Homo sapiens: one gene and its partners. Changing the gene in region 3 together with the main gene of any one other region gives a genetic interaction. Each region holds a gene or a part of one and is shown on either strand. Other genes may lie near its edges. The genes, in order: VPS51, SAR1A, SLC33A1, CARM1, RAB1A, ACACA and EP300.

The links.
Region 1: changes in SLC33A1 (region 3) and VPS51 together harm fitness more than expected from each alone (negative genetic interaction), as found in Homo sapiens cells (one large-scale study listed by BioGRID).
Region 2: changes in SLC33A1 (region 3) and SAR1A together harm fitness less than expected from each alone (positive genetic interaction), as found in Homo sapiens cells (one large-scale study listed by BioGRID).
Region 4: changes in SLC33A1 (region 3) and CARM1 together harm fitness more than expected from each alone (negative genetic interaction), as found in Homo sapiens cells (one large-scale study listed by BioGRID).
Region 5: changes in SLC33A1 (region 3) and RAB1A together harm fitness more than expected from each alone (negative genetic interaction), as found in Homo sapiens cells (one large-scale study listed by BioGRID).
Region 6: changes in SLC33A1 (region 3) and ACACA together harm fitness more than expected from each alone (negative genetic interaction), as found in Homo sapiens cells (one large-scale study listed by BioGRID).
Region 7: changes in SLC33A1 (region 3) and EP300 together harm fitness more than expected from each alone (negative genetic interaction), as found in Homo sapiens cells (one large-scale study listed by BioGRID).

The regions. Positions count from the first base shown.
Region 1 is NC_000011.10:65,101,820-65,106,293, reverse strand, and holds part of VPS51 (vacuolar protein sorting-associated protein 51 homolog), read right to left. Parts: intron 1-4,474. UniProt on the Homo sapiens protein: Acts as a component of the GARP complex that is involved in retrograde transport from early and late endosomes to the trans-Golgi network (TGN).
Region 2 is NC_000010.11:70,156,834-70,161,239, forward strand, and holds part of SAR1A (small COPII coat GTPase SAR1A), read right to left. Parts: intron 4,237-4,406; coding exon 4,171-4,236; intron 1,035-4,170; coding exon 931-1,034; intron 1-930. UniProt on the Homo sapiens protein: Small GTPase that cycles between an active GTP-bound and an inactive GDP-bound state and mainly functions in vesicle-mediated endoplasmic reticulum (ER) to Golgi transport.
Region 3 is NC_000003.12:155,829,697-155,834,170, forward strand, and holds part of SLC33A1 (acetyl-coenzyme A transporter 1), read right to left. Parts: intron 4,346-4,474; coding exon 4,161-4,345; intron 3,890-4,160; coding exon 3,772-3,889; intron 208-3,771; coding exon 1-207. UniProt on the Homo sapiens protein: Acetyl-CoA transporter that mediates active acetyl-CoA import through the endoplasmic reticulum (ER) membrane into the ER lumen where specific ER-based acetyl-CoA:lysine acetyltransferases are responsible for the acetylation of ER-based protein substrates, such as BACE1.
Region 4 is NC_000019.10:10,902,111-10,906,584, reverse strand, and holds part of CARM1 (histone-arginine methyltransferase CARM1), read right to left. Parts: intron 1,635-4,474; coding exon 1,509-1,634; intron 1-1,508. UniProt on the Homo sapiens protein: Methylates (mono- and asymmetric dimethylation) the guanidino nitrogens of arginyl residues in several proteins involved in DNA packaging, transcription regulation, pre-mRNA splicing, and mRNA stability.
Region 5 is NC_000002.12:65,091,557-65,096,030, forward strand, and holds part of RAB1A (ras-related protein Rab-1A), read right to left. Parts: intron 1-4,474. UniProt on the Homo sapiens protein: The small GTPases Rab are key regulators of intracellular membrane trafficking, from the formation of transport vesicles to their fusion with membranes.
Region 6 is NC_000017.11:37,399,771-37,404,244, forward strand, and holds part of ACACA (acetyl-CoA carboxylase 1), read right to left. Parts: intron 1-4,474. UniProt on the Homo sapiens protein: Cytosolic enzyme that catalyzes the carboxylation of acetyl-CoA to malonyl-CoA, the first and rate-limiting step of de novo fatty acid biosynthesis.
Region 7 is NC_000022.11:41,171,618-41,176,091, reverse strand, and holds part of EP300 (histone acetyltransferase p300), read right to left. Parts: intron 3,594-4,474; coding exon 3,429-3,593; intron 2,470-3,428; coding exon 2,308-2,469; intron 1-2,307. UniProt on the Homo sapiens protein: Functions as a histone acetyltransferase and regulates transcription via chromatin remodeling. Acetylates all four core histones in nucleosomes. Histone acetylation gives an epigenetic tag for transcriptional activation.

The DNA of each region.
Region 1 (4,474 bases), on a different chromosome or scaffold from region 3:
TTACCTAGTCTCGGGCAGTTCTTTACAGCAGTATGAACCTGGATTAATATACCTAGTAATCAATCCATTACCAAGTCATGGAAGGTCTACCTGCAACATTTTCTTTGTAAGCCACTATCATCTCTTGTCCAACAACTGCCAACATTTCCCAACTAATTTCCCTAATTCCATTGAACATACCAACAATGTTCATAAAGAAAGGCGAAGAGGATAAGACAGAAATGTGTATCTGTAACAGGAGATATTTTGGTTTTGTTTTGTTTGAGAAAGAGTCTCACTCTGTCACCCAGGCTGGAGTGCAGTGGCGCGATCTCAGCTCTGGAGGCTCCTGGAGGGTGGCACGCCCGGGGAGGGCATGGAAACTCCATGCTCCTTCTCCTACACCTCGCCCTATGCACCTGCTCATCTGTACCCTTTGTAACATCCTTTGTAATAAACTGGTAAATGTGTTATCCTGAGCTCTGTGAGCCACTCCAGCAAACTGAGCCCAAAGAGGGAGTTATGGAAACCCCTACCTGGAGCCAGTTGGTCAGAAATTCTGGAGGCCTGAGGCCCTGACCTGCAGCTAGTGCCTGAAAGTGGGGAGGCAGATTTGGGACTGAACTAGTGCCTGAAGGGAGGCAGGCTTGGGGACTCAGCCCTCAACTCATGGAATCTGATGCTATCTCTGGGTAAATAGTGTTGGAATTAAATCAGAGGACACCCAGCGGGTGTCTGCTGCTTGGTGTGTGGGGAAGAAACCCAACACATTTGGTCACAGAACTCTTCTGTGGTCATGATTGTGGTGATGTGAGAGCATAGGAAGCACACAGTTTGCATTTTTCCCAAACAATGCCATAAAATATATACAAACCTTTCCATATGGTAGATCACAAAGAAAAAAACCTCATTCTTTTTTTTTTTTTGAGACAGGGTCTCCCTCCGTCGCCCAGGCTGCAGTGCAGTGGCGCGATCTCAGCTCACTGCAACCTCCACCTCCTGGGTTCAAGCGATTCTCCTGCCTCAGCCCCGAGTAGCTGGGATTACAGGCACGTGCCACCATGCCTGGCTAATTTTTGTACTTTTAGTAGAGAGGGTTTCACCATGTTGGCCAGACTGGTCTCTGACCTCAAGTGATCCACCCGCCTCGGCCTCCCAAAGTGCTGGGATTACAGGCGGGAGCCACCGTGCCCAGTCGAAAAAACCTCATTGTTAACCAATTATGAGGTCAGAAAAGGAAATCAAAACTGAAATTGCAGCATGGGTAAAATACCAAGAAAACACTAAATTGGTAAGGGCTTGGTGAATTCTATGGATGAAATGGATAATTTGCTACAAAAATAGGATTTACCAAAATGGATTGCAAAAAACAAGAAAACAGAAACAGAAAAACTAGAGAATGTTGTGAAAGAAAGGTCCTACTCCCCTTTCCCCTCCACACAAAGGCATCTGGCCCAGATGTCCAGGGGTGTTGCGGCGGCTTGAAGGACAGCGCCTTCCAATTCTCTGTGTAAACACTGCCCCAGCAGAGAAACGAGAACAGCTCTCACACAAACTTGATGGAACAAACATAACACTGTTATGAAAACATAACAGAAATACCTCACATATACACATTCATATCTCTTATGAATGGAGATGCAAGGATGAATTAAATAAACAAATGGAGATGCACAAATAAGCAAACAAAATCCAGCAGCATATTAAAATAATAATTGATAAACACAAAAGGGTTTTTGTTTCATGAATGCCAGGATGACTCAAAATTAGAGGATCTCATAATAATTTGCCATGTTAATAGATATTTCAACATCTATTCTTGATTTTTAAAAAACTCTCAATAACATATGAGCAGCTAAATATTTCCCTGACCTCCAAAACTCAGTATCATGTTTACCGAGGCAGTGCTAGAAGCACTCCAATTAAAGTCAAAACATGGCAAGGACAACCTTGATTGCCAATGTTATCTACATTGTTCTGGGGCATTAGCCAACTCAGCTAGAGTCACGAGATGTATTATGGAGATACACAAATTGGAAAGGAGGGAGAAGTATCACTATTTGCAGATGATATAATCAAATAAATAGGCCAGCCACGGTAGCTCATGCCTGTAATCCCAGCACTTTGGGAGGCCGAGGCAGGCAGATCACTTGACGTCAGGAGTTTGAGACCAGCCTGGCCAACATGGTAAAACCCTGTCTCTAGTAAAAATACAAAAAGTAGTTGGGCGTGGTGGCAGGTGCCTGTAATCCTAGCTACTGGGAAGGCTGAGGCAGGAGAATCGCTTGAACCCTGGAGGCACAAGTTGTAGTGAGCTGAGATTGTGCCACTGCACTCTAACCTGAGTAATAGAGCAACACTCTGTCTCAAATAATAATAATTGAATAAATAGAAAGCCCTAAAAAAAAAAAACAAAAAAAAACACCCTGTAAACGTTACTATAAACAATAAGAGATACCACTTTTCACTTCTCAGATTGTCAAAGATTGAAAGAGGTATTCTCTTCTTTGCTGGTGGTTATGCAAACTGATCAGCATTTACAAAGAAGAATCTGGAAATATCTAACTGCAATCACTTGTGAGCCTTCACACACCCACACCTGGTCTGTGTGTGGCTCTGGGACTGTAGGAATGTTCTCCAAGCAACACTGGGAATCTACCCCACTTGGGGAGACAGCTGGAAGGGTGAGTAAGGAGAAAAGCATTGATGTCAATTTGACAAGAAACAAACAGAAACAAAAAATGCAGGAAAAAAATATTAGAGAAAATATAAGAGAAAGAACTGTCTGAGACAAAGAATCTACAGGGCTCACATCTGTAGAGCTATTAAGGGATTTTTTAAAAAATTACATGGAAAGGTAGATTACGTATCAGCAAAATGGACTTTTCATTTTAACAACACAGTCCACAAGAAAGGATCATTTAGCCCTCTTAGAGATGATTTCATAGAAAGGAAGGTTACTAAGGAATAAAATCACATGATGTGAAACATCTATATTACTTTTGGGACCATAGGGACCATTGCCTGCATTTTGTTGGGGAAATCATAATTATTTTGAGTTTCTTTGCTTGAGATAGGGTCTTGCTCTGTCTACAGGCATGGTGATGCACACTTATAATCCCAGCTACTCAGGAGGCTAAGGCAGGAGAATCACCTTAACTGGGGAGGCGGAGGTTACAGTGAGCCAAGATGGCATGCAGTGGTGCAAACACAGCTTACTGCAGCCTTGAACTCTGGGGCTCAAGTGATCCTCCTACCTTAGCTTCTGAAGTAGCTGGGACTACACACAAGCGCCATCACACCCGGCTAATTTTTTAATTTTTGTTTAAATTTTGTGTAGAGATGGGGTCTCTCTATGTTGCCCAGGCTGGTCTCAAACTTCTGGGCTCAAGCAATGCTCCCACTTCAGCCTCCCAAAGTGCTGGGAGCACAGGAGTGAGCCACTGTGCCTGGCAAGAAAATTTTTCTTGCCAATTCATAGATGGTGAACTAAAGGACATAGCAAAGGCAGCGCTATGCAGTGAAAAACAATAAAAGCAGAGCCGAGGCTGAGGTTCGTAAAGGGATCATGGGCTACTGATCTAAGGGAGACAGACAGAGGCTTGGCAGTTGATGAGGCATTTGGTCTTCACCCAGTGAATTACTGGTTTTGTTTACAGGCCATGTGACACAATCTCCTTCCAGGTCTGCCAAAAGCTACCATGAAAAGAGCAGACTCTTTTGGTAGTGGGTGTTTGAGCCCATGACACTTAGGGGCTACCTCAAGAAGGAAGCTTGAATCCAACTTCTAAAGGGTAAAATCCAAACACTAAGTTGTTAGGAAAATAGAGTAAAAGAAAACCCAACAGTGCTGTGTGCTGTCATTGTCGCTGCCTTCCCAGCCATGGAGCCATTACACTGGAGATAAAAGTTGTACCATATCCAAAAACAACAGTGAAAGCATCCACACCATTCAGTCACAAAGACTACACTGTTTATCTTTGCATTTCAAGCTTGTTAAGAAAAGCAGGCTGGGCACAGTGGCTCACGCCTGTAACCCCAGCACTTTGGGAGGCCAAGGCAGGTGGATCACCTGAGGTCACCTGCCTGACCAACATGGTGAAATCCCGTCTCTACTGAAAATACAATAATTAGCCAAGTGTGGTGGCAGGTGCCTGTAATCCCAGGTACTTGGAAGCCTAAGACAGGAGAATCACTTGAACCCCGGAGGCGGAGGTTGCAGTGAGCCGATTGGGCCACTGCACTCTAGCCTGGATGACAGAGCAAGACTCTGTCTCAAAAAAAAAAAAAAAAAAAAGCTTGTTAAGAAAAGCAGTTTGTAACCAGGGAGAGTGAAAGCCATCTGGATGCGAGGATGTTGGCTACCTTGGGAGGGGACTGGGTGGTAACTGGTAGGAGGCTCAGGGGGCTTTGCTGGTTATGCTGTTTCCCGACCTGGATGCTGATTATGTGACTGTGCTCCCTTTGTGAAATCCATGGAGCTGTCCACTTATGT
Region 2 (4,406 bases), on a different chromosome or scaffold from region 3:
ATAGGGTAAAGGAGTAGGGATAACAAAGCCAATAGTATAGAAACCATCAAGCCATGAGAAAATGCAATGTTGACAAAGGAGAAAACTTGAAGTGAGTCCTTAATAGTATCAAAGGATGTATGCAACCAAAACTGAAGACTGAGAACAGACCATGAAGGTCTGGCAAGTCATTCAGTGGGAGGGTGGGTAGGCACAAGCTGAGAATGCAGATTCAAAAATGTAAAGAACTCTAATATCGCTTTTAGGCTTTCACTATGCCAACACTACTTATAAAGAATTACTGTTCATGGGCCAGGCGCGGTGGCTCATGCCTGTAATCCCAGCACTTTGGGAGGCCAAGGCGGGTGGATCATGAGGTCAGGAGATCAAGACCAACCTGACTAACATGGTGAAACTCCGTCGCTACTAAAAATACAAAAAACTAGCCGGGCGTGGTGGCACGTGCCTGTAGTCCCAGCTACTCGGGAGGCTGAAGCAGAAGAATCCCTCGAACCCAGGAGGTGGAGGTTGCAGTAAGCCAAGATTGCGCCACTGCACTCCAACCTGGGCAACAGAGCAAGACTCCGTCAAAAAAAAAAAAAAAAAAAAAAAAAAAACAGAATTACTGTTCATGACACGTGAAACAGAATACTATTAATTATGCTGGGACAACAGGCATAAATGAGGAGTATCCTGAGCAAACTTGGCCATATAATCACTGTATGATAGAAACAACAGTTAATTTATTTAAGTTTGAGCTGAGTTTCCTCAGGACATTGAAAAGCAATGTCTTAGATTTAAAACATTTTCCTCCTGCAACTAGGTCTTTTTGCCAAATGTTAACTGGAATGACTAATTATTGGCACTACTGAGCTATATTCCTTAAAAAAAAATAGAGGCCAAAAAAGAACAAAATATACATTAAAATACACATTAAAGGACAAAACATACATTAAGCTCAACTTTGGATTCCACGAGGCGAGAATGATCTGCACAGTCCACCAGAAAGACAATCCCATTAATTGCTGGGAGATAATTTTTCCAAACGCGACGTGCTAAAAAACAAAGTTTGTAGTTGCATGAGTAAAAAATATACATTGTGAAAATGAATAACCTAATGGTCTATAAAATGGACAAATCTTGGTCGGGTTTCAGTAAGATTAGACTCTATGGATTTCTCCAAGTTCTGGCCAGTATTAATTCAGAACAGAGGATGCAAACTGATGGTCCATGAGCTGAACCTGATTTTTGTAAATTTGAAAATCAGAGTTTCCGCTTTTTTTGAAAAACTGCAACATCTGGCAATCCCATGCCTACTTATCCACGTGACAATTATCAGCAGGAACTAAGCAGTGGCTGCCCCTTCAGATGATGTCTGAACACTTTTGCTTGACAAAATTTCCCTGCTGTCTTACAGTCAGCCAATTTTACTCACTTAAATGACTTGCCTTGCCCCTGGGGCCAAGTCTAGTTTGCAACCTCTGAGTTAAAACATCAGGATACAAATTACTTGTCCATGTAACTTTAGTCCCAGTTAGTTTCTAGCCAACTTGTGTGTAGGCGTCTTGACACATTCCTCTGCTCAGCCCTTAGGGAGACTAGGCCTGACAAGTGGTTCAAGGCCCCAGGCCAGTTATCTCAACCTACCATATTTAACCCAGCATGCCTTATAAATATTACTTGGTTTTTTGCTTGTGACATGAAACGATAAAGGCTGGGAAGCAGTGATTTAATTGTACTATCATTTCTAAGCCATTAATTTCTAGCCCTTGCAATAGAATGAATAACGAACCATCTCTACATCAGTTAATAATGGTTACCTTTAAAGAGTGGAGCTAGGAAAAAGAGGTTGAAGGAACTTTCCATTTTACTTTCCGTAGTTCTATACTGATTTTGTTACATCGAACTTGCTCTCCTTTTATAAGTTAAAATTTTTAAGTTATACAAAAAAAAAAAAAGGAAACCTCCAGATGTACAGTACTTTAGTAACTTTTATAAAATGGTGGCTAGGTTATTATGTAAAAGTGTTTTTGTTAAGTAGATTTTCCTCAGTCAAATAAACAAAACTAATTACATCAATACATTTCCCTTCTTACTTTTAACAAAACCTGAAACCTAAATTTATCACACCAAACAATCTACAATTCCCAGTTCAGGTATATAAAACCATCTGGCGTCTGGTCCTTCTACATTCTCCAGATGGTCTAGGTTCAGTCTTATCTTGCTCTGAATTTAAATTTGTAAGCAGTTACAAATCCTTTTGTGGAAGCAGCAGAAAGGACACCATATACCCATTCTTACCCAAATGAAAAAAATACAAGCTCCTTACAGAAAAAAAGGAAACAAAATCATTTCTAATCCCTCTATCAAAACACACCCCTTGTCAATATTTTGATATTTTCTTCCAGCCTCTTTTCTTTACTGGTATTTTATGTGATTATGATCATAATATACATGATTTTTCAGGGCATAAATATTAAATAAATTAATTAAAATGTAATTATATGTTAATGAAATCACTGACTATAAAATTATTAGGCTTAACAACTAGAAATGACCAATGTTATATTTTACTATACATTTTTTAAAAACTGTATTAGGCTGGGCACAGTGGCTCACGCCCATAATCCCAGCACTTTGGGAGGCTGAGGCAGGTGGATCACCTGAGCTCAGGAGTTGAAGACCAGCCTGGGCAACATGGCGGAAACCCAGTCTCTACAAAAAACAGGTGGGAGGATTGCTTGAGCCCAGGAAGTAGAGGTTGCAGTATGCCAAAATTGTGCCACTGCACTCCAGCCTGGGCAACAGAGCAAGACCCCATCTCAAAAAAAAGAAAAAAACGGTATTAGCTCAACCTAATGTTTCAAAACAAGACTTCTCCACTCAGTGTAATAACAAGTAAGTAAATCTGACAGAATCTCAATAGTTCCTTTTCCCTACTTTCCCAGAATATTTATTCTCACATCTTAAATGTTTTACTCCTATACCTACGGTCTTGTCAAATGTGAACTGAGTGCCCATCAGACAAAGATGACACTCTGTATGTCTCTAAACACCTGATAGGAATCTGGAAACCAAAGACATAGCCTGAGTAGGCAAAAAGCACTTCTGAGGAAAGCAAAAAGGTAGAAGGAAATGTTCCACCAACTGTCTGAAATGGATAGAATATACAAAATATCAACTTGTATCAGAGTAATCACACATAGTCACTGTATTACTTTTGCAACTTTTGACAAGTCTGAAATTACTTATAAATATTTAATTTCCTACATACTTTCACTCCATTGAATAAAGGATGCAAAAATGACTTCATAACTAGATATATGATACCGTATACCTGGTCAAGATGAAAAAAATGGTATAAAAGAGATTATCAGGACAACTGACCAAAAAAAAAAGGAAATACAGAGTGGATAAAAATAAAACTTCCTGGATTTGATAACTATTATGATTATATACAAGGAAATATCTTTGTTCTTAGAAAATGGCACTAAAGTATTAAAGAGTAAAGGGGCATGATATGCTCACCAACACTTCATTAAAAACAAGCATTAATATGTATTATATAAAGAAGAGGCACTAAAGTATTAAAGAGTAAAGGGGCATGATATGCTCACAAACAGTTCATAAAAAATAAGCATTAATATGTATTATGTAGGGAGGAGGAGACTAACAAATTTGAGCAAAAGGTATAGAAGAAAATATACTGGCTTAGGGCAAGCCTAGTTAAAATGATGAAATAATTACTCTTGTTGAAGCAATACATATATCTTTTAACATATTTTCCAGTTACAAGGTAAATTACATTAATAAGTAAAAATGTAGTAAAGATTAAAATGGCAAGATGCTGTCCTGCTTTGTAAAAATTTTCAGTCAAGATTTGAGTTGAGTTTGGCTATATCAGGCAAATACTTAAAAGTTCATGAATAGTTATACATTATGGCTAACTTTATCCCAGCTCAATAGGGTAATATTGAAGGGGACTTCTGTGTATTATTTAATGCAACTTTTGACAAGTTTGAAATTACTTAAAAAAATAAATGAATAAAACAACTTCACTAAAGTAATAAGATCCTAATTCTAAAATGTAAGTAATTTAAAAGGTAAAAATGACACACTGCTTTTAAAAGGAGCTGGGAGGCACAAAAAAAATAAGTCAATAAACATGCTTTCCACTGAGTCATCACTTACCTTGCTCGTGCCCACCAAGATCAAAAGTTGTAAAGGTCATTCCAGCAATTGTTAGCTCTTCTGATGCTGAAAAATTGTTTAAAAAGAAGAAAAAAACTTGTCAACTCAACAACCCCCAACTACTAGTACTATAAGCCAATATCAATGCTTTCATCTTGTAAAGAAAAAGATACAAGAAGTTGAGTGTGGTGGTACCCGCCTGTAGTTCCAGCTACTCAGGAGGCTGAGGGCAGGAG
Region 3 (4,474 bases):
ATCAGGTGTTCGACAATTCTGGTTTGATGCTCCTACACACTCTTTTACTGTGAGGGGATCTACAAGCCAAAGAGCTACTGTAGAAGGCCAGTTTCCTCCCAGATTGGACACGGTATTTAAAAGGGTCATGTATGTTCCTCCAATAAGTGGATCACTAACCTTTGCATTGAAAGCCATTATAGAAACATACATGCTGTACACTGTAACCTACGGAAAAATGTAAAACATCTTTAGTATGATTATAAAGCTTATAAAGCTACAGTCTAAATTAAGAACATCAAAGTCATAAACCTGAAATTAATTTTCATGGTATTTATTGAACTCAATTCAACAAATACTTATCAAGCACCTACTATAGGCCAGGCTTTAAGATCACAGCAATACAGGCCGGGCGCGGTGGCTCATGCCTGTAATTCCAGCACTTTGGGAGGCCAAGGCGGGCGGATCACAAGGTCAGGAGATCGAGACCATCCTGGCTAACACGGTGAAACCCTGTCTCTACTGAAAAATACAAAAAAAAAAAAAAAATAGCCGGATGTGGTGGCAGGCGCCTGTAGTCCCAGCTACTTGGGAGGCTGAGGCAGGAGAATGGCGTGAACCCGGGAGGCGGAGCTTGCAGTGAGCTGAGATCGCACCACTGCACTCCAGCCTGGGCGACAGAGGGAGACTCAGTCTCAAAAAAAATAAATAAATAAAAATAAATAAATAAAAAAAAAGATCCCAGCAATACAAAGATGTGACCTTGGTCCTTCTGTGACATTGAAGAATTTATTCTAGGCTGGAAAATGGGGAATAAATAATTATAAATACAGGAAGTACTGTAAATAGAAGTGCACACATTGTGTTACTGGGGCATAAAGATAAATGAGAGATTAATTCTACCACAAGTAGTCAAGAAAGACTCCACGGAGAAAATGTTAGATGAGGTGGCACTAAAGGATACATAATGCATACAGCAAAATGCAAAACCTCATATTTGTACTGTACCTAAATATGTATCATATATTGCATGTGTATATATACATATTTATATGTATGCATTTATTACATATATAAATACTCAAATATTTAAAGAAATAGGAATATATATATTTTTCTCCTACATATACACAAGAAAAGTATTTCAAAATTTATGTGACAAACTGGAGAAAAACATCCTTAAGAGGCAAAAAGTACTTAAAAGGCAAGAATTAACCTTTAATTTAGAAAGATGGAAACAAACTGTGTTTCAATAATGGTATTCCTTTGAATAGTGTTTTTGGGGGTGTTCACAGAAAAAGGAGTTCCAAAGTCAAATAAGACTGAAAGACACTAACTTACACAAAATTGAAAAGGTTCCTTTCATTGTATGCCTTTTGAAATATTTACAACATACACTCCTTGAGGGCAGGGATTTGGGCATGATTTATTAAGTTATATTTCAGTACTCAGAATGGTTTCTGGCAGGGAATAGGTGTTCACTTAATATTTGTTGAAGAAGCTGGGTGCGGTGGCTCACACCTATAATCCCAGCACTTTGGAAGGCCGAGGTGGGCGGATCACCTGAGGTCAGGAGTTCAAGACCAGCCTGGCCAATGTGGTAAAACCCGTCTCTACTAAAAATACAAAAATCAGCTGGGTGAGGTGGTGCTCATCTGTAATCCCAGCTACTTGGGAGGCAGAAGCAGGAGAATCACTTGAACCCGGGAGGTGGAGGTATCACAGTGAGCCGAGATTGTGCCACTGCACTCCAGCCTGGGCAACAGAGTGAGACTCTGTCTCAAAAAAAAAAAAAAAAAAAAAAAAAAAAAAAAAATTTGTTGAAGGAATCATTAAGGCACTACTTACAGAAGGCTTATGTCATACATCATTTCTCGAATTTATTTGGTCTTGTACCTTTTTTCCCCCATAAAGCATCTGGTTATCTGAGTTTCAGTGATTACACTTCAGGAAATTCTCAAATGAAATCCAAAGCTAAATAAATACTTTTTTTGGGCTATAACATACCGACAGAAATACTGAAGCATTGACTAGTTAAAGTATTTCTTTAACCTTCTATTACATATCTAGCCTTAACTAAGCATGTGCAAAACAGAAAAAAAAATTATATTTGACAGTTTGGCCTCAATAATTTTATAAGCATAGAATTTAGTCTGACAGGATCCACTACAGATTTCTCCTAAATGATTTACTGTATGCACAAAACTACTGAGATTACCTGGTAGTCATATTTTTACGTTTCAGTTAAAAATTAATTCATACATTAGCAAATATAACTTTCAAAGGATATAAGCTAGAAAAATCCAAAGTGACTCAGAAATATGCATTAGCAATAACTGCAGTTAAGTCCCAAAGGTTACTTCTGGGCCTTTGCCATTTACTTGAATCACTTGCATCCAGAACAAAAAAATCTCATTCTGGGCCAGGCGCGGTGGCTCATGCCTGTAATCCCAGCACTCTGGGAGGCTGAGGCGGGTGGATCACCTGAGGTTGGGAGTTCTAGACCAGCCTAACCAACATGGAGAAACCCCGTCTCTACTAAAAAAATACAAAATGAGCCGGGCATGGTGGTACATGCCTGTAATCCCAGCTACTTGGAGGCTGAGGCAGGAGAATTGCTTGAACCCTGGAGGCGGAGGTTGCGGTGACCTGAGATCGTGCCATTGCACTCCAGCCTGGGCAACAAGAACAAAACTCTGTCTCAAAAAAAAAAAATCTCATTCTGCAACAGCAGCTTAGGCTAGAGCAAAGTGGGGATTCCTTCTTTTAAGGATTACAAACATATTTAACAAAGAAAGAAAAAGCAGCTTGACACAGCTTTCAAAATCATAAAGAATAAGTCAAAACTTTCAATATAGAAGCTAAGCCAGGGCCGGGTATGGTGGCTCATGCCTGTAATCCCAGCACTTTGGGAGGCCGAGGTGGGCGGATCACTTGAGGTCAGGAATTCAAGACCAGCCTGGCCAATATGGTGAAACTCTGTCTCTACTAAAAATACAGATAATTAGCCGGGCGTGGGCAGTGGGCAAGCAAGCCAGACTCTGTCTCAAAAAAAAAAAAAAAAAAAAAAAAAGCAGAAGCTAAGCCAGAAACTAAGACCAATACTATTTCTCAATACTTTCAGAAAGAAAAGATATTAGGAATTCAAGAAAGAATGAACTGAAACCTAGGGATAAACTGAGAAATATTTAGCAAGAGTAGAATTTGCTGGCTTTGGAATCAATTCTAAAATGTAACAAATACTTGTTGAATAATTTTTTTTTTAATGAATGAATGAATAAGAAAGTCTCTTTCAGCCGGGCGCAGTGGCTTGCACCTGCATTCCCAGCATTTTGGGAGGCTGAGACAGGTGGATCACAAAGTCAGGAGTCAAGACCAGCCTGGCCAATATAGTGGAACCCTATCTCTACTAAAAATACAAAAATTAGCCAGGCGTGGTGGCACGTGCCTGTAATCCTAGCTACTCAGGAGGCTGAGGCAGGAGAAATGCTTGAACCTAGGAGGTGGAGGTTGCAGTGAGCCGAGACTGCACCACTGCACCCCAGCCTGGGTGACAGAGCAAGACTTCATCTTGGGAAAAAAATAAATAAATAAATAAAAAAGTCTCTTTCTATGAACAGCAGAACTCATTAAGTGAAAAGTCATAAAGTTTAAAGCGCACCATCAATAATTTCTTCAGTGTCAGATTCATGCTTAAAATTTATTATCATTATTTTAAGACAACTGTAGAAAGCTGTCTTCCTTATTTTACACAGAACAGTTTATTTCCTGAGAAAACCACTGCAAGCTTACCTGATGTAAAGCATAACTCAGCAGGACTACGATATAGTAATATATAGGGAATCCCCCTTGATGTTCTACTTTAGGAGTCCACCAAACCAGTAGGGCATATTCTAACCCAAGCAATAATCTATAGAGAAAGAAACATTGAGTTGACTTCCATTTTAGCTTAAATAACAACAACAACAAAAACAGAAATCCGTGTGCCTACCATATGAAAGAAGCTGTATCTAAACCTGTTAGGAGGTTAAAAAGATAAAAGTGCATATAAATAATATTGAAAAAAGATGCTTTTCAAATCTTTTTCCATATATATAATTCTACGCTCAGATATTAGTGGTATTGATGAATGTTCCTCATTTTACCCTTTCTTATTTAGTAAGGTTTTATTTCATTTTTACCTGTAGGGCATGGCTTTGTAAAATGTGTTTAATGGCTGGGGACCTGCAGTGTATTTGCTGATAATCAGAGGCAGTATTATCTGCAAAGGAACCATTGGAACTGCCAATAAGGCTAAATGTTCTTTGGGTACTCCCTCTTCTACCAATTTCAGTCCTGTTACAGCATCTGCTGCTGAAAAACCAATCTGCAATATAAAAACAAAAAAGTATTTTAATTCGTGACTTATGAAATATTTTCCTCCATGCATATGTAAGTTCTTCAAGAACCTCAATTTTATTACTGACCCATGACAGTTACAAGTGAGCATCATATT
Region 4 (4,474 bases), on a different chromosome or scaffold from region 3:
GCGCTGAGGCAGGAGAATCGCTTGAACCTGGGAGATGGAGGTTGCGGTGAGCCGAGATCGCGCCACTGCACTCCAGCACTCCAGCCTGGGTGACAGAGCGAGACTCCGTCTCAAAAACAATGAAAAGACACAGTTCGGGATGAGCAAGTTCTGGAGATGGGCGGTAGTGACAGTTGCACAACAATGTTAATGTGCTGCTTGCTACCAACCTACACACTTCAAAAGGGTTAAAATGATCACATTTTGTTATGTAGATTTTAGCACAACTTTTAAAAACTGACAGAACTGAAATAAAAAATATTAAAATACAAATAGTCTTAAGAGTGGGAACGGCCGGGTGCAGTGGCTCATGCCTGTAATCCCAGCACGTTGGGAGGCTGAGGCGGGTGGATCACTTGAGGCCAGGAGTTTGAGACCAGCCTGGGCAATATGAAAAACTCCATGTCTACTATATTAAAAACACAAAAATTAGCCAGGCACGGTGGCACACACGTGTAGTCCCAGCTACGCGGGAGGCTGAGGCATAAGAATCGCCTTGAACCCGGGAGGTGGAGGTTGCAGTGAGCTAAGATAGCACCACTGAACTCCAGCCTGGGCAACAGAGTGACACTCTTTCTCAAAAAAAAAAAAAAAAAAAAAAAAGGGGCCGGGCACGGTGGCTCACATCTGTAATCCCAGCACTTTGGGAGGCTGAGGCAGGTGGCTCACTTGAGGCCAGGAGTTCAAGACCAGCCTGGGCAACACAGTGAAAACCCATCTCTACAAAAAATTAGCCAGGCATGGCAGCTTCACACAGCTGGCCCCGAGGGCTCAGGCTGCCCAAGGTACATCTGGGTCACTGCACAGCTACCTTGAGACAAGGGGGAGGCCGGCAGTGGCTCATGGGCACGCAGCCTCTCCACCTCCAGCTGTCCTCGCACCAGCACCTGTGTCAACCACTGGACTCACTTCAGGTCTCTGGTAACCAAGCCTGCGGTGGGACCTTCAGACCATCTCCAGCCCTGGGCATTCCTGGACACCTCTCTGCTACCCTGGCTGCATCCACCTGGGGTTCTCCCACCCCTAGTCAGGAATCTTGTGTCCACCTGTGCCCCCAAGGTGGGTTGGTTAAGCCCTTCTGGTGGCTTCTCTGCGCCCTGAGCAAACTCTTCCTGCCTCTAGGACCTCGCCTCACTCCATCCACAGCTGGCCCAGTCACAGCTGGCCCAGGGCTGGCCACTGCCAGAAAGACTGGTCCCAGGTGGTCAGGATGGGCCTCTTGGAGGTGGGGACATAGAAGCCAAGCCCCAAAAGACCCGGAGGAGCCGGTGAGGGAGGGTCTGGGATCCAGGGTCTGCCCAGGCCAGAGTGTATTCTGGGCATACCTGCATGTGGGAATGTGGTTTTGAGGGCAGTGGAGCCTTCTTAAGGATGCACGGGCCACCCCTCAGCCAGGCTCTACGCCCCTGCCCACCAGGGCTCTGGGCGCTTTGGGCTGGTGTCACCGGAATGGAAGGAGGGCCACGTACCGTTGGGTGTGGCGAACTGGATGAGGACGCTGTTGCAGCCCAGGGTGATGATGAAGGACTGCTTGCCCACACGGCTGCACTCTGTCTCTCGGGACACTGAGCACTTAAAGACACACACATCTTCATCTACGAGAGAAGACAGGCTGGCGTGAGCGGTGCAGCCCTGTCAGCTGCCTTCTTTTGAGCCTGGGTCCCTGTCGCCCTCCTGCTGCCTCCCCTTGGTGCCCCCAGATTCTTCCAGAGTGCCACAAAACCACCCTGGCAGCATTGCCGGGTGCCCTGACTGCCCAGCCCACATGGAAGACAAGGGAGCGACTGATCAGACAGCAGGAACACAGCCTGTGTCCTCAGGATGATCAGGGCTGAGACGGGCATGGTGAAGGCTGAGGTGGGCAGACAGGGCCACAAGGCATGGTGCTGGCCCACAGGAACTCAGAGCTGGAGCTGCCTCTGCCCTGCTCGGCTGAGCCCTTCTGTTCTTGGATGGGCGCAGAGCAGTGACTGCATGTGGCCAGTGGAGTCAGACCGCTGGGTTCACACCCCATCCATGCCATTTGTTCACTGTGACACAGGCATGTCCCTCAGCCTCTCTGGAACTGGGGTTCTCACCATCAGATGGGGCTAATGGCGGGGCAGTGGTCTAGTGAATTAGGACACTGTCTCCCTGTACCCATCATGATAGCTGTTACCAGTCATTCATTCCACAAACCTGCAGCCACTCCACTCCAGCCAAATGGTGAAACTTAGCGATGCCAGGAACGGGCCAGCCCAATCAGGCACTGTGCCCCTGCCTGCCATACTGCAGTGGGACAGGTGCATCATCTGTAGTATTCTTGGCAAAAATGTTTGCCCTAGTCTCATCTTCAAGGGACAACAGAAAAGGACAAGTTGTGGGGCAGGCTACAGGACAACCAGCCTGGTCTCCTTGAACAGGCCAATGTCAGGAAAGACCAAAACGGTGGGAGCTATTCCAGAGTGCAGGAGACAAGAAAGAGGGGAGTGCCCAATGCAATGCAAAGTGGGACCCTGGGCTGGAGCCAAACGAAAAATGTTTTTAAAAGTTATACAGGACAACTGGGGAGGCTGGGCCCACACCTCTAATCCCAGCACTTTGGGAGGCCAAGGCAGGAGGATCACTTGAACCCAGGAGCTGGAGATCAGCCTGGGCAGCATAGCAAGACCCCATCTCTACAAAAAAATTTAAAAATTAGGCAGGCATGGTGGCATGCGCCTGTTGTCTTAGGGACTCAGGAGGCTGAGGCTACAGTGAGTCATGACTGTGCCACTGCATTCCAGCCTGGGTGACAGAGCAAGACCTTGTCTCAAAAAAATAAATAAAGGACAACTGGGGAGCTGGACAGAGTGGCTCACACCTGTGGTCCTAGCTACTTGGGAGGCTGAGGTGGGAGGATCGCTTGAGCCCAGGAGGTTGAGGCTGTAGTGAGGTATGATGGTGCCACTGCACTCTAGTCTAGGCAACAGACGTGAGATCCTATTAAAAAAAAAAAAAAAGACAACTAGGGAAATGTGAGTGTGGACTACATATTCCATAATTTTAAGTTATTTGGATGTGACAATGGTATTGTGGTTTTGTAGAGAAATGCATATTTTCTTAGAAAACATATGCGGAAGTATTTATGGCAAATTCCCATGATGTCAGTAGCTTGCTTTTGAATAGCCCATCATAACAACAACAACATGAGTGCAAATATGGCAAAGTGTTCTCAATCACCCTGAATAGCCAAAACAGTCTTGAAAAAGAATGAAGTTGGAGGATTCCCATGTCTCAATTTCAAATTTTACTACGAAGGTACAGTAATGAAAACAGTGTAGTGGTACTGGCAAAAGAAAGGAGACACAGATCAATGGAACAGAATCAGAGTCCAGAAATAAACCCTTATACTTATCCTCAATTGATTTTTGATAAGGATGCCAAGAACATTCAATGGGGAAAGAATAGTGTCTTCAACAAACACTGTTGAGAAAACTGGATAACCACAGAGAAAAGAATGAAGTTAAACCCCTACCTCACACCATATACAAACAAAACAGAACTCAAATGGAGCAATGACCTAAATATAAGAGCTAAAACAAGAAAACTCTTAGGAGAACTATTTGCAAATCATCTATTGTTAAGTATTTAGTGTCCAGAATATATAAAAAACTATTTTAGGGTCAGGCATGGTGGCTGACACCTGTAATCCCAGTACTTTGGGAGTCAGGCAGATTACTAGAACCCAGGAGTTTGAGACCAGCCTGGGCAACATGGTGAAATCCCGTCTCTACTAAAAATATAAAAATATTAGTCGGTGTAGTGGCATGCGCCTGTAGTCCCAATTACTTGGGAGGCTGAGGTGGGAGAATCACCTGAGCCCAGGAAGTTGACACTGCAGTGAGCAGAGATGGCAACGCTGCACTCTAGCCTGGGTGACAAGAATAAGAGCATGTCTCAAAAAAAAAAAAAAAAAGTCTGGGCACAGTGGCTCACGCCTGTAATCCCAGCACTTTGGGAGGGCAAGATGGGTGGATCACGAGGTCAGGAGATCAAGACCATGCTGGCTAACACAGTGAAACCCTGTGTCTACTAAAAATACAACAAAACAAAACAAAACAAAATTAGCTGGGCATAGTGGCAAGTGCCTATAGTCCCAGCTACTCAGGAGGCTGAGGCAGGAGAATGGTGTGAACCCGGGAGGTGGAGCTTGCAGTGAGCCAAGATCACACCACTGTACTCCAGCCTGGGCAACAGAGTAAGACTCCGTCTCAAAAAAAAAAAAAAAAAAAAAGAAACAACAATTATTTTGTATCTATTTTTATTATATTTATTTTTTGAGATGGAGTCTCACTCCATCACCCAGCCTGGAATGCAGTGGCACAATTTTGGCTTGCTGTGACCTCTGCCTCCCAGATTCTAGGGATTCTCCTGCCTCAGCCTCCCGAGTAGCTGGGGGACTACAGGTGTGCAC
Region 5 (4,474 bases), on a different chromosome or scaffold from region 3:
TCATTCTGTCATCCAGGCTGAGTACAGTGGCATGATCATGGCTCGCTGCAGCCTCAACCTCCCACCTCAAGCAATCCTTCCACCTGAGCCTCCTGAGTAGCTGGGACTACAGGCACATGCCACCACACCCGGCTAATTTTTTCTTTTTTGTAGAGACAGAGTCTCGCTACATTGCCCAGGCTGGTCTCAAATTCCTGGACTCAAGCAATTATCCTAACTCATTCTCCCAAAGTGCTGGCATTACTGGCATGAGCCACCATGCCTGGCTAGGTGTTGTCTTCATCCTAGAGAAAAAAATGTAAGGAAGATGACTCCAAATACTTTCATAAAACGTATTTTAAGAACAATTTACTGCACTTCAACCATTTAGGCTCAAACTCCCAAAACAAATGCTAACATTATTGCATTATAGTTCTGGGTTTTAAAAAACTGTTGGGACTGGGTACGGTGGCTCACGCCTGTAATCCCAGCACTTTGTGGGGCCGAGACGGGCGGATTACGAGCTCAGGAGTTCGAGACCAGCCTGACCAACATGGTGAAACCCTGTCTCTACTAAAAATCCAAAAATTAGCCAAGTATGCTGGCGTGCGCCTGTGGTCCCAGCTACTCGAGAGGCTGAGGCAGAATCGCTTGAGCCCAGGAGGCAGAGGTTGCAGTGAGCTGAGATCACACCACTGCACTCTGGGCAAGAGAGCCAGATCCTGTCTCAAAAAAAGAGAAAAAAAAAAAAAGAGGCTCAAAGTCTTTCAGTGTATCCTTGGAGGAAGCATGAACTCGAGGATCAAGCTACCCTGACTTCAAAACATCAAATCCAGGTTCCTGGTTATTTAATATTAGGGAGAGTCACCTAACAGTTTCTTCATCTGTAAATGCTAGATAGCATTCACCTTGTACAACAGCTAAAGGGGTTTAAATGAACTAATGTTTGTAAAATGTGCCTGACTATAGAAGCTGCTCAATAAAGCAAGTTTCCTTTTCTTCCTTGCTCACCAACCTCTTTCACAAAGATAGAAGGAAAAATTGTTTTTTGACTAAAAGTCAACAAGAAGTTACAGCTGATTAAAGTAAGCAATGGCACCCAAAAAGTAAAATTTCCTTTTTATCCAAAATGGAGGTATTGCTATGTTGCCCAGGCAGATCTTGAACTCCTGGGCTCAAGTGTTCCTCCTGCCTCAGCCTCCAAGTAACTGGGACTACAGGCACTGATATGGTTTGGCTCTGTGTCCCCACCCAAATCTCATCTCAAGTTGTAATCACTGAGGGAAGTGATTGGATTATGGAGAAGTGATTGGATTATGACGACGGTTTCCCCCATTCAAGTGATAGTGAATGAATTCTCACAAGATCTGATGGTCTCATAAGGGGCTCTTCCCCCTTCACTTCCTTCACACTCTCTCGCCTCCTGCCATGTAAGACGTGCCTGCTTCCCTTTCTGCCACAGTAAGTTTCCTGAGGCCTCCTCAGCCATGCAGAACTATGAGTCAATTAAACCTTTTTTTTAATAAATCACCCAGTTTTGGTCAGTTCCTTGTGGCAGTGTGAGAACAGAATAATACATGCACCATGCCTGGCAGAAAGAGTAAAATTTCTGATGTTTCCTTGCTACTCTGAAAACTTTCCTGACACTAAATCCTAACAGTACTAACAATACTTTCCTTCATATGTAATTCTCATTACTCCTCATAATCAGAGTAACTTTTTCCCATGTTTGTCTCTCCCATTGTCTGCCTCCTAATGGACTATGTTTTATTCATCTCTGTAACCTCCAAGTGCCTGGTGTAATGTAGACATTTTCATAAAGCCTCATGAATGAACAATCACAGAAAGAGGCCTTCCATGGTGTACAACTGGACTCAGTACCTGCCCTATCTTGCTGAATGTTTTATAATCTAATAAAACTCAGATAAAGACCCAGATGTCACACCTGAACAGGAAAAGCTGAAAGGAAAAGATAATTAAAATATAAATCAACAGAATCAAGATTTTGAAAAGACCTAGAAAACTTGAAGGATTACTGAAGCCAAGCAAGAGGAAATGATAGGATTAAAAGTAAAATCTTGTGTTTAGATTTTTTTTTTTTTTTTTCAGACGGAGTCTCGCTCTGTCACCAGGCTGGAGTGCAATGGCGCAATCTTGGCTCACTGCAATCTCCGCCTCCTGGGTTCAAGTGATTCCCCTGTCTCAGCCTCCCAAGTAGCTGGGATTACAGGCACCTGCCACCATGCCCAGCTAATTTTTTTGTATTTTTAGTAGAGATGGGCTTCACCATGCTGGCCAGGCTGGTCACGAACTCCTGACCTTGTGATCTGCGTGCCTCTGCCTCCCAAAGTGCTGGGATTACAGGCGTGAGCCACCGTGCCCGGCCTGTGTTTAGATTTTTAAAACACCAGTCACAGAAGTGTAAAGTGAGACCCTCTTCTTTTTTTTTTTTGAAACAAGGTCTCGCTCTGTTGCCCAGGCTAGAGTGCAAATGGCACAATCTTGGCTCACCGCAACCTCCATCTCCGGGCTCAAGCAATCCTCCCACCTCAGCCTCCTGAGTACCTTGAACTACAGGGACACACCACCATGCCTGGCTGAATTTTGTGTTTTTGGTAGAGACAGGGTTTCACCATGTTGCCCATACTGGTCTTGAACTCCTGAACTCAAGAGATCTGCCTGCCTCAGCCTCCCAAAGTACTGGGATTACAGGGGTGAACAACTGCACCTGGCCAAGGCCCCTATTTTAATTAAAAACAAGCAAATCGGCCAGGCGCCGTGGCTCACGACTGTAATCCCAGCACTTTGGGAGGCCAAGGCAGGCGGATCACCTGAGGTCGGGAGTTCGAGACCAGCGTGACCAACATGGAGAAACCCCATCTCTACTAAAAATACAAAATTAGCCCGGCGTGGTGGCACATGCCTGTAATCCCTGCTACTAGGGAGGCTGAGGCAGAAGAATCGCTTGAACCTGGGAGGCGGAGGTTGCAGTGAGCCGAGATCACGCCATTGCACTCCAGTCTGGGCAACAAGAGCGAAACTCCGTCTCAAAAAAAAAAAAAAAGAAAAAAGAAAAAACAAGCAAATCAAAAACCTTAAGACCCAAACTAGAAATAATATAGCTACTGAAACAACAAATGGTTGTCTTTGATTAATAATAAGAAAGGGCCATGAGCCCTTGAAGTTCAAGAGAGAAATTCATTCAGGCTCCAAATCAAGACAGGATTTACCTCATGTGTTATATCTCATACTTGATTTAAGAAATCAAATTTAATAAAAGGCATTTATAAAATGTAAGAATAACCCAAATTGCACAAGGTTCTGAAAATATCATTACAGGAAAGAATGAGGACTTCAGAGGTAGAAGAAAGGTTGTGATAAGATCAATCTGAAGGGCAGGCTTGCCAATAAAAGAGGAATTAATCTGATTCAGGCAGCTCTACAAGGCGGAGGAATAAGAAGAGACAGAAGTAAAAGAAACAGGCTTCAGCTCAATATAAAGAATTAACATGTCTCTAAAAGAATCATGTAGTGAGCTGACCGCTGCACTCTAGCGAGGGAGACAAAGTGAAATTTTTGTCTCAGAAAAAAGAAAAAAAGAAGAATCACTAGGAATAAATAAAAAAAATAACTGGCAACTAGAGGTTTTGTGGTTTTTTTTGTTTTTTTCTGTATGTTTTGCAAAGATGAGGTTTCGCCATGTTGCTCAGGCTGGTCTTAGACCTCCTGAGCTCAGGCAATCTGCCCACCTTGGCCTCCCAAAGTGCTAGGACTATAAGCGTGAACCACGACGCCCGGACAGCCACTGCGCCCAGCCTTATTTTGTTTTTGAGACAGGGTCTCTCACTCTGTCCCCAAAGCTGGGGTGCAATGGTGCAATCTTGCCTCACTGCAGCCTTGAAGTCCTGGGCTCAAACATTCCTCCCACCTCAGTCTCCTGGGGAGCTAGGACTACAGGCATGGACCACCACACCTGGTTACTTTTTTTTTTTTTTTTTTGGTAGAGATAGAGTCTCTATGTTGACCAGGCTGGTCACAGGAGCTATGTTGACTCCTGGCCTCAAGTGACTCTCTGACCTCGGCCTCCCAAAGTGCTGGGATTACAGGCATGAGGCAACATGCCTAGCTGAAGTTATGTGTAAAATGGAACTAGCTATTTCGAAAAAATGGTAAGCTTCTTAAAAATGTTCAAAAACCCAGGCGTGGTGGCTCACGCCTGTAATCCCAGCACTTTGGGAGGCCAAGACGGGTGGATCACTTGAGGTAAGGAGTTTGAGACCAGCCTGGCCAACATGGCGAAATCCCATCTCTACGAAAAATACAAAAATTATCGGAAGGCTGGGCACAGTGGCTCATGCCTGTAATCCCAGCACTTTGGGAAGCCGAGTCAGGCAGATCACGAGGTCAGGAGTTCGAGACCAGCCTAACCAACATGGTGAAACTCTGTCTCTACTAAAAATACAAAAAATTAGCAGGGTGTGGTGGCGCACGCCTG
Region 6 (4,474 bases), on a different chromosome or scaffold from region 3:
TGCCAGCCAACTCTTGAGTGTTAAATAATGAGAGTCAGTTTATTAGTTATATTTGGACAGATCTGGTTTTTTGCTTTATTTTTATAAATAATGTTCTAAGAAATTTATTTTATTTAATTTACTTATGGCATATTTAAACATTTTTTGGCAAATAAAAATTGTGTATATTCATGATGTACAACATGTGTTGATAGATGTACTCATTGTGGAATGGCTAAATCAAGCTAATTAACAAATCCATTACCTCAAATATATACCCATTACCGCAAATACTTATTTTTTTGTGTGGTAAGAACAACTAAAATCTACTCTCTTAGCAATTTTCAAGCATATATATATTTTTGTTTGTTTGTTTGTTTTTGTTTTTGAGACAGGGTCTTGCTCTGTTGCCCAGGCTGGAGTGCAGTGATGCAATCTTGGCTCACTGCAACCTCTGCCTCCCGGGTTCAAGTGATTCTCATGCCTCAGCCTCCTGAGTAGTTGGGATTACAGGCATGCACCACCACGCCTGGCTAATTTTTGTATTTTTAGTAGAGATGGGGTTTCACCATGTGGGCCAGGCTGGTCTCAAACCCCTGACCTCAGATGACCCACCTGCCTCAGCCTCCCAAAGTGCTGGGATTACAGGTGTGAGCCACAGTGCCTGGCCTCAAGTATATATTTTTAACTATAGTCACCATATAGTATAATAGATCTCCTGCACTTATTCCTGCTGTCTAACTGAAATTTTGTATCCTTTGGCCAAAATCTTCCAATTCTTTCTCTCTCATCCCCTGGTAACCACCATTCTGCTACTTCTACAAGCTTGACTTTTTTAGATGCCACACATAAGTGAGATTAAGCAGTATTTGTTTTTCTGTGCCTGGCTTATTTCACTTAGCATAATGTCCTCCAGGTCCATCTATGTTGCTGCAAATGACAGGATTTCCTTATTTTTTAAGGCTGAACAGTATTCCATTGTGTGTGTGTCTGTGTGTGTGTGTGTGTGTGTATCTATATCTCACATTTTCTTTATTCATTCATCCATTGGCATACATGTAGGCTGTTTCCATGTCTTGGCTATGGTGAATAATGCTGCAATGGATATGGGAGTACAGATACCTTGACATGCAGATATCATTTCCTTTGGATATATACCCAGAAGTGGATTATTGGATCATATGGTAGTTCCATTCAAAAATTTTTAAGGAACCTCCATACTATTTTCCAAAATGGCTGTACTAATTTACATTCCCACTGACAGTGTACAGGGTTTTTCTCCACATCCTTGCCAATGCTTATCTCGCTTTTTGATAATAATCATTCTGACAGGTGTGAGGTGATATCTCATGGTAGTTTTAATTCACATTTCCCTGATGATTAGTGATGTTGAACATTTTTTTCACATACCAGTTAGCTATTTGCATGTCTTTTTCTTTTGTTTTTCTTTTTTTTTTTTTTTTGAGACAGAGTCTTGCTGTTGCCCAGGCTGGAGGGCAATGGTGTGATCTTGGCTCACTGCAACCTCCGCCTCCTGGGTTCAAGTGATTCTCCTGCCTCAGCCTCCTGAGTAGCTGGGAATACAAGCGCCCGCCACCACGCCCAGCTAATTTTTGTTTTTTTAGTAGAGACAGGGTTTCACCAGGTTGGCCCGGCTGGTCTCGAACTCCTGACCTCAGGTGATCCACCCGCCTCGGCCTCCCATGCTACTTGCATGTCTTCTTTTGAGCAATGTCTTTTCAGGCCCTTGTCCACTTATCTGATGTAGGGGTCGTGAATATTTTCTCCCATTCCGTAGGTTGTCTCTTTACCTTTTTTTTTTTTTTTCCAGACGAGGTCTCACTCTGTTGCCCAGGCTGGAGTAAAGTGGCACAATCACGGTCACTACAGCCTCAACTGTCTGAGCTCAAGTGATTCTCCTACCTCAGCCTCCCAAGTAGCTGGGACCACAGGCGTGTGCTATCATGCCCAGCTAATTTTTTGATTTTTTTGTAGAGTTGAACTCTCACTAAGTCACCCAGTTTAGTCTCGAACTCCTGAGCCCAAGCAATCTTCCCACCTAGGACTGTCAAAGTGTTGGGATTACAGGCATGAGCCACCGCACCAGGCCAGAAACTCTACGTTTGATTCTAACCACAGCAGCTTAGCAGCTGAGGACAAACTGTTGGGATATTTTGGTCTCAGTCAATGGCAGCCAGGTTACCAACCCTGACAAGATACAAGTTTTCTTCGTTGGGTTCCTGGTACAAAAGTCAACCTTTTCAGTTACTTATGAATGAAAGGGCATGAAGATTGTGCTATTAGTTTATCCTGAAGGTCAATCTTCAAAAATACTGGTTCAACATGGATTTGGATATTATTAATATAAATTTATGGCTTAAAGAGGACAAAAGGTGTTTTTTTGGGTTCCTTTACAGAGATATTTAGTGAGGGAACAAGGCACTTAGTCATCTTTGCTATGACAGGTTAAATACAAGGTGTACTGGGAACATGTAAGAGGGTGACTTAACTCAGCCATTGGGGGGTCAGGAGAAGTGTTCCTAAGGAAGTGATGTCTAAGTGAGGTAGGCAGTACCTTGGCAAAAAAAACCTTGAAGTTAAGAGTGCATATGAGAAATGAAGGTATGTCCACCTGGCTGGCAAATGGAGTCTAAGATAGGGCAGTGATGATAAAGATATAGGAAGATGCTAGATCTGGAAGGGCCTTCTAAAAAGAATGACAATATAAATTTATTGTACAAATGGAGACTTTACTGAGAGTGAAACCAGGCAATATTAATACTTAGGTAGGGACAACAGATATAAACCAGGCTATTCTCAGCAAATCAGAAATTATGGTCACCCTACTTGTAAGTCACATTCAGGTGCTTAGACTTTCAGTGAAAGCATAGAGTATGTATCTTCTACATTTTGCCTAAGTGACTTCATTCTTTTTTTTTTTGAGACAGAGTCTCGCTCTGTTGCCCAGGCTGGAGTACAGCGGCACGATCTCAGCTCACTGCAAGCTCCACCTCCCAGGTTCACGCCATTCTTCTTCCTCAGCCTCCTGAGTAGCTGGGACTACAGGCGCCCACCACCACGCCCGGCTAATTTTTTGTATTTTTAGTTGAGATGGGGTTTCACCATGTTAGCCAGGATGGTCTCGATCTCCTGACCTCGTGATCCGCCCGCCTCAGCCTCCCAAAGTGCTGGGATTACAGGCGTGAGCCACTGCACCCAGCCAGTGACTTCATTTTTACTTTTGCCTTTACTTACTCATTTCACAAGTATTTGAGGATACACTTCAGAGCACTGAGGTTACAAAGACAACAGTGTCTGTCCTCAAGGTCTGTCTAGGTAAGACACACAGCCAAATAAACAATTCTAATACAGTTATACAGTTTTAGTTCTGACACCTCCAATGAGCTGTAGACTTGTATTTGTCATTTCCAGTCAGAATGCAAAACACAGATCCAAAACAGAACTTTCAATTTCTCCTCCAAATCTATTCTTCCTTCAGCTGGTCGTGTAAGTGATGCCACTATCACATCCACTTAAGACAAAAACCCAGAGGAGTACTGCCTTAATCAGTAATCAGTGTTACCCTTCTTCTCACTGTGCATGTTAATTTTGCCACATCTTTTTTTTTTTTTTTTTTTTTGGTACAGTGTCTCACTCTGTCACCTAGGCTGGAGTGCAGTGGTGTGATACTGGGTCAATGCAGCCTCAACCCTCTGGGCTGAAGTGATCCTCTCACCTCAGCCTCCTAAGTAGCTGGGACTACAGGCATGCGCCACTACACCTGGCTAATTTTTGCAATTTTTGTAGAGACGAAGTTTCACCATGTTGCCCAGTTCTCATGCCTCCTTGAACTCCTGAACTCAAGTGATCTGCCTACCTTGGCTTCCCAAAATGCAGGGATCCCAGGTGTGAGGCACCGTGTCCTGCCCTCTCCACATCTTTCTTAAGCACACTGACTAAATTGGTCTAAGTAGAGCCTAACATCAACTGAAGGGAGAGGGTAATTTCCAGGTAGTTGAATGCTATGATTTTTGTTTTTTTGTTTTTGAGACAGACTCTTGCTCTGTTGAACAGGCTGGAGGGCAGTGGTGCGATTTCAGCTCACTGCAACCTCCACCTCCAGGGTTCAAGCAATTCTTGCGCCTCCCAAGAAGCTGGGATTACAGGCATGCGCCACCACACCCAGCTAATTGTTGCATTTTTAGCAGAGATGGGTTTTCGCCATGTTGCCCAGGCTGATCTTGAACTACTGGCCTCAAATGATCCATCTGCCTTGGCCTCCCAAACTGCTGGGATTACAGGAATGAGCCACTGTGCCTGGCCCCTGAATGCTATGTTTTTAACGACTAGATCTCAGTATTATGTGGGACTAATTTTTCTACAGTATTACAACACTGATTACTGATATTCATTGTTGACAATCATGACATCCAGATCTGGATATTTGCCTTAGCCAGTCTCAAAATTTGAGTTTCAATGACAAAGACACAGATAT
Region 7 (4,474 bases), on a different chromosome or scaffold from region 3:
CACACCACCACACCTGGCTAATTTCTGCATTTTTTGTAGAGACGAGGCTTCGCCATGTTGCCCAGGCTGGTCTCAAACTCCTAAGCTCAAGTGATCTGCCTGCCTCAGCCTCCCAGAGTGCTGGGATTACAGGTGTGAGCAGGTACAGCAGGCTGAGCACCAATGAGACTGGCGAATGCTGAGTTAGTTTCACCACCATACGCCTCCTGTTCCTTTTCCTGCTTTACCTCTTTGGTCTCTTGAGACTGACTATAAATAGAACTGAAATGCACATCCTGTGATTTTTTTCTCCTTCATTCAGTAACTCCTTCAGAGTAACAATGGTCTGGGTGAGGTATAGCACCATGCACAGTGGACATTTTGCCTCAAGGCAGTCTACTTTAAGATGCAATCCATGGTTTAACCTCAATCTAATTACAACAAACCAGACAAATCCAAATATGGAGACAGTATGAAAAACAACTGGCCTGGACTCATGAAGGTCCCCTATGCAACTTTCCTGTGTAACTTTTCCTACAGGTTTGGAAGGGAATGGAATGGATAAAAAATCTTAGTCTTTGTTGACAAAGCAATAAAATTCTTGTTCATTGAAGTTTGAAAAAACTTGTAACAACCATCAATTCTCATAACCATTAGTGTAAAAGGTATAAAAAGCTGGTATTACATATGTATTTGACATTAATTAGTATATAACTATAAACACCTATTAAAGTAATAAAATGTAAAACATCCCCTTAAGAAATTAGGAACTTGTGAGAAACTGCTGTACTGATAACAGATTATTCAACATCTGTGCACACTGGCAGCCACACTCACAGTCTCTGGCCAGCAATGTTCGCTGCTTCTGTCACCCTACAACCAGGCCAATACTTGGATTTACAACCTAAATTTAAACAGCCATGGAATGTGTCCACAATTTAAGTCAAACCTATTACAATATATTCTAAGGGCTTTTCCCAACTGCCTAGGATTCTGTGGCATTACTTACTGCTTGAAATAGCTAGTAACTATTAATTGTTAATAATCATTACCTAACGTATTAGAACTCAGGAATCCTTCCATTTCACTAGCATGGCTGAGATAATGGTTATTACCATTATTACATCGTAGCCCATTATTCTAGGCTAACAAAAAAGGGGTGGTGATGGGGGGAGCAGTGGGGGAAAAGATACTTTGAACACCTATGTATATAGGTGTTCACCATGATAACATCATTATAACAAATTCCTCTCTAAAAAAGATTTTGTTAACTATTTCTCTCCCAAAGAGACTGTTTAACCAATTTTTAGGTACGGAATTACAACCTGAAATCAAGCCTTCATTTCCCTCTCAACTTAATTACCACTTCCTATAAGAACTTGATTATATGTCTGAGAACCGAGATAGTAAAATGAGGAGTCTGACTGAACAATCGAGATTACTACCATTGGACAAACCCTGAGAGGAATTACTCTTCAATTCTCCTGGCTTTCGTTATCAATTATATGATATTAAAGAGAGAAAAAAAAAACCTTACCCAGTTATTTTCCCAAATGACTGCAAGAACAACTAAACAATGTAAATGATGAAATAACTCAAAAAGTTTTGAGAAGGGGGTTGTAAGTCCATATGTGGAAGTTTAACTTTTCTCCAATTCTATTTACTAATTCACTTTCAGAAAGGTTAAATCTTTTTATTTTTTGAAACAGAGTCTCGTTCTGTCACCCAGGCTGTAAGTGCACTGCAACCTCTGCCTCCCAGGTTCAAGTGATCCTCCCACCCCAGCATCCCAAGGATTACAGGTGTGTGCCACCACGCCAGGCTAATTTTTGTATTTTTAGTAGAGACGGGGTTTCGGTTCGCCATGTTGGCCAGGCTGGTCTCCAACTCCTGACCTCAAGTGATCCGCCTGCCTCAACCTCCAAAGTGCTGGGATTACAGGCATGAGCCACCACGCCCAGCGAACAGTCAGTGTTTTTATTCATTTCTTATTTCTTTTTCTGAGGTGGAGTTTCGCTCTTGTTGCCCAGGCTGGAGTGCAATGGAGTGACCTCGGCTCACTGCAATCTCCGCTTCTCAGGTTCAAGCAATTCTCCTGCCTCAGCCTCCTGAGTAGCTGGGATTACAGGCATGTGCCACCATGCCCAGCTAATTTTGTATTTTTAGTAGAGCAAGGTTTCACCGTGTTGGTCAGGCTGGTCTTGAACTCCTGACCTCAGGTGATCCACCCGCCTTGGCCTCCCAAAGTGCTGGGATTACAGGTGTGAGCCACCATGCCTGGCCAGAAATCTTGCCGTTTTTCCCCAACTCTGGGTGGCTGCATCTTACCTCTTTATGCTTCTCCATGGTGGCATATAGTTTCTGTGAGAGGTCGTTAGATACATTGGGCATCCCGGGTTTCTTCTTGTTGCCCCTACTCAGGCTGCTCTTATTTTTGCTGGTTTTCTTATTATTCTTCTTTTTAGCATTTTTGCTGTCTCCCTTGGTCACCTGCAGAGTAGCACAAAGGAGACAAGAAAATAAGGTTTTTGTTAAGTAATTTGGGAATAGCACAGAATATCTCCCTTCTTTGAAACTAGATATCATAATCTTATGCCTGTAACTTATTTTACTAGCTGTTCTCTTCACTTATTCTTTCTCCTTAAAGTTGTTATTTGACCTAATTTTCTCCCAGTGATCTTTAAGGCAATGGCAGCCCTTTAGCTTTTTGCCTAGAAGAGGCCACAGAATGTGCAGACCCTGTAGATTGATTGAATGTATCCCAGATTGGGGCTAGGGAACAAGGAAGGGGTGGCACTTTGGGGTAGTGAAGAGTGTATCAAAGTGGGGAGCCAGAAGACCTTGGTTTTATTTCCTTCCACTCATATTCTAAAATGTTATGAGCCTACAAATACTAAATGACAAGGCTGTAAGAGTTTGTTAACAGACTATTTAAGGGTGCCTTTTGTTAAGTTAAATTCAATGGAGGTAATTCGAGATATGCTATGGGGAAATAACTGGTGAGGTTACTAAGCCAGGCTTAGTAACTTAAATTCTGGCTCAGGCCTATTTTGTATAGCTAAGAATGGTTTTTTACATTTAAAAAGAGTGTGTTTTTAAAAGACAGAAAATATGCCAGAGATATGTGACCCACAAGGCCTATAATATTCATAACCTAGTCCTTCAGATAAGTAATCTTCTATCAGTTTTTCAGGATTTCCTTCAGTTTCTTTTATCATTTCACATTACTCAAAGTCTGAGATGCCATTTTAAAAGGGGCTCTGATGCTTTAAAAGTTTAATACCACTGAAACAGAACCCTAATAACCTCTCTAAGCCAATATTTCTTGTCCAACTTAAAGAGCTCTTTTACACCTGAAAGCTTTAAAACCCAATTGAAAGTTTAAGTGCACTTCTGGATTAAATATTAGAATCATGATAGAAGTTTCAAAGGAAACTCAATGCCCTTACATCTGTGCTTTCATTGCTGGTGTTTTCCTCTCGTTTTCTCTCTTCTTCCTCCTGTTCCAGTTCCTTAATGCTTTCTTCCAGAACATTGGGCCAGAAATCACCCTCGAAATAAGGCAATTCCTTTGCACTTGTTAATCTATCTTCAGTAGCTTGTTTAAAAATATCCTGTGAAAACATGCATGTACATATAGGAATTTCTATGTTCTTTTAAAGCATTGATTATACAGAATAATCATGGCTGACAAGAAACATGAAAGCTTAAAATGTCTTGAAAGCTGGCAGAGACTTTATACCTAAGCCGTAAGCCAGGGAGTATTTAGAAAAATAAATAGTGAAAAGGCCTGGCCTAAAGTCAATATTTCCGGTTTTCTATTTCTTCTACCCACAAAAACAGGGAGCTTATCTGCCTTTATATAACCAAGTGGCAATTATCCTGCCAGGATCAACGTCAGGGTGGTAGCACCATCATGCATGCCATGGCCCCTACCACTCCTTATCACAGAATATGTGGTATGAAGCATGCCCTCCTCACACCCATCCTTGGAATTTCAGCAGCTTTTACTGACAGCTTTGTTCAAAATGACCAAAACTACAAATACTGGAAATAGTATCTGCTGCAGAATGATTTGCTGGGCTGCTTAGGAAAACTTCTTTATTTAGTTGAACTACTAAATTGAGGAAGACAAGTCTGTATCATGAGACAACCTATATTTATGAATAACATAATACTGTTAATTAAGAATATATTTTTGGCCAGGTGCAGTGACTCACACCTGTAATCCCAGCACTTTGGGAGGCCGAGGCAGGTGGATCACCTGAGGTCAGGAGTTCGAGACCAGCCTGACCAATGTGGAGAAACCCCGTCTCTACTAAAAATAGAAAAAATTAGCCTGGCTTGGTGGTGCATGCCTGTAATCCCAGCTACTCGGGAGGCTGAGGTAGGACCATCACTTGAACCCAGGAGACTGCACCATTGCACTCCAGCCTGAAACTCCGTCCAAAAAAAAAAAAGGGAGAATATATTTTTGGCTGGGTGATGTGGCTCA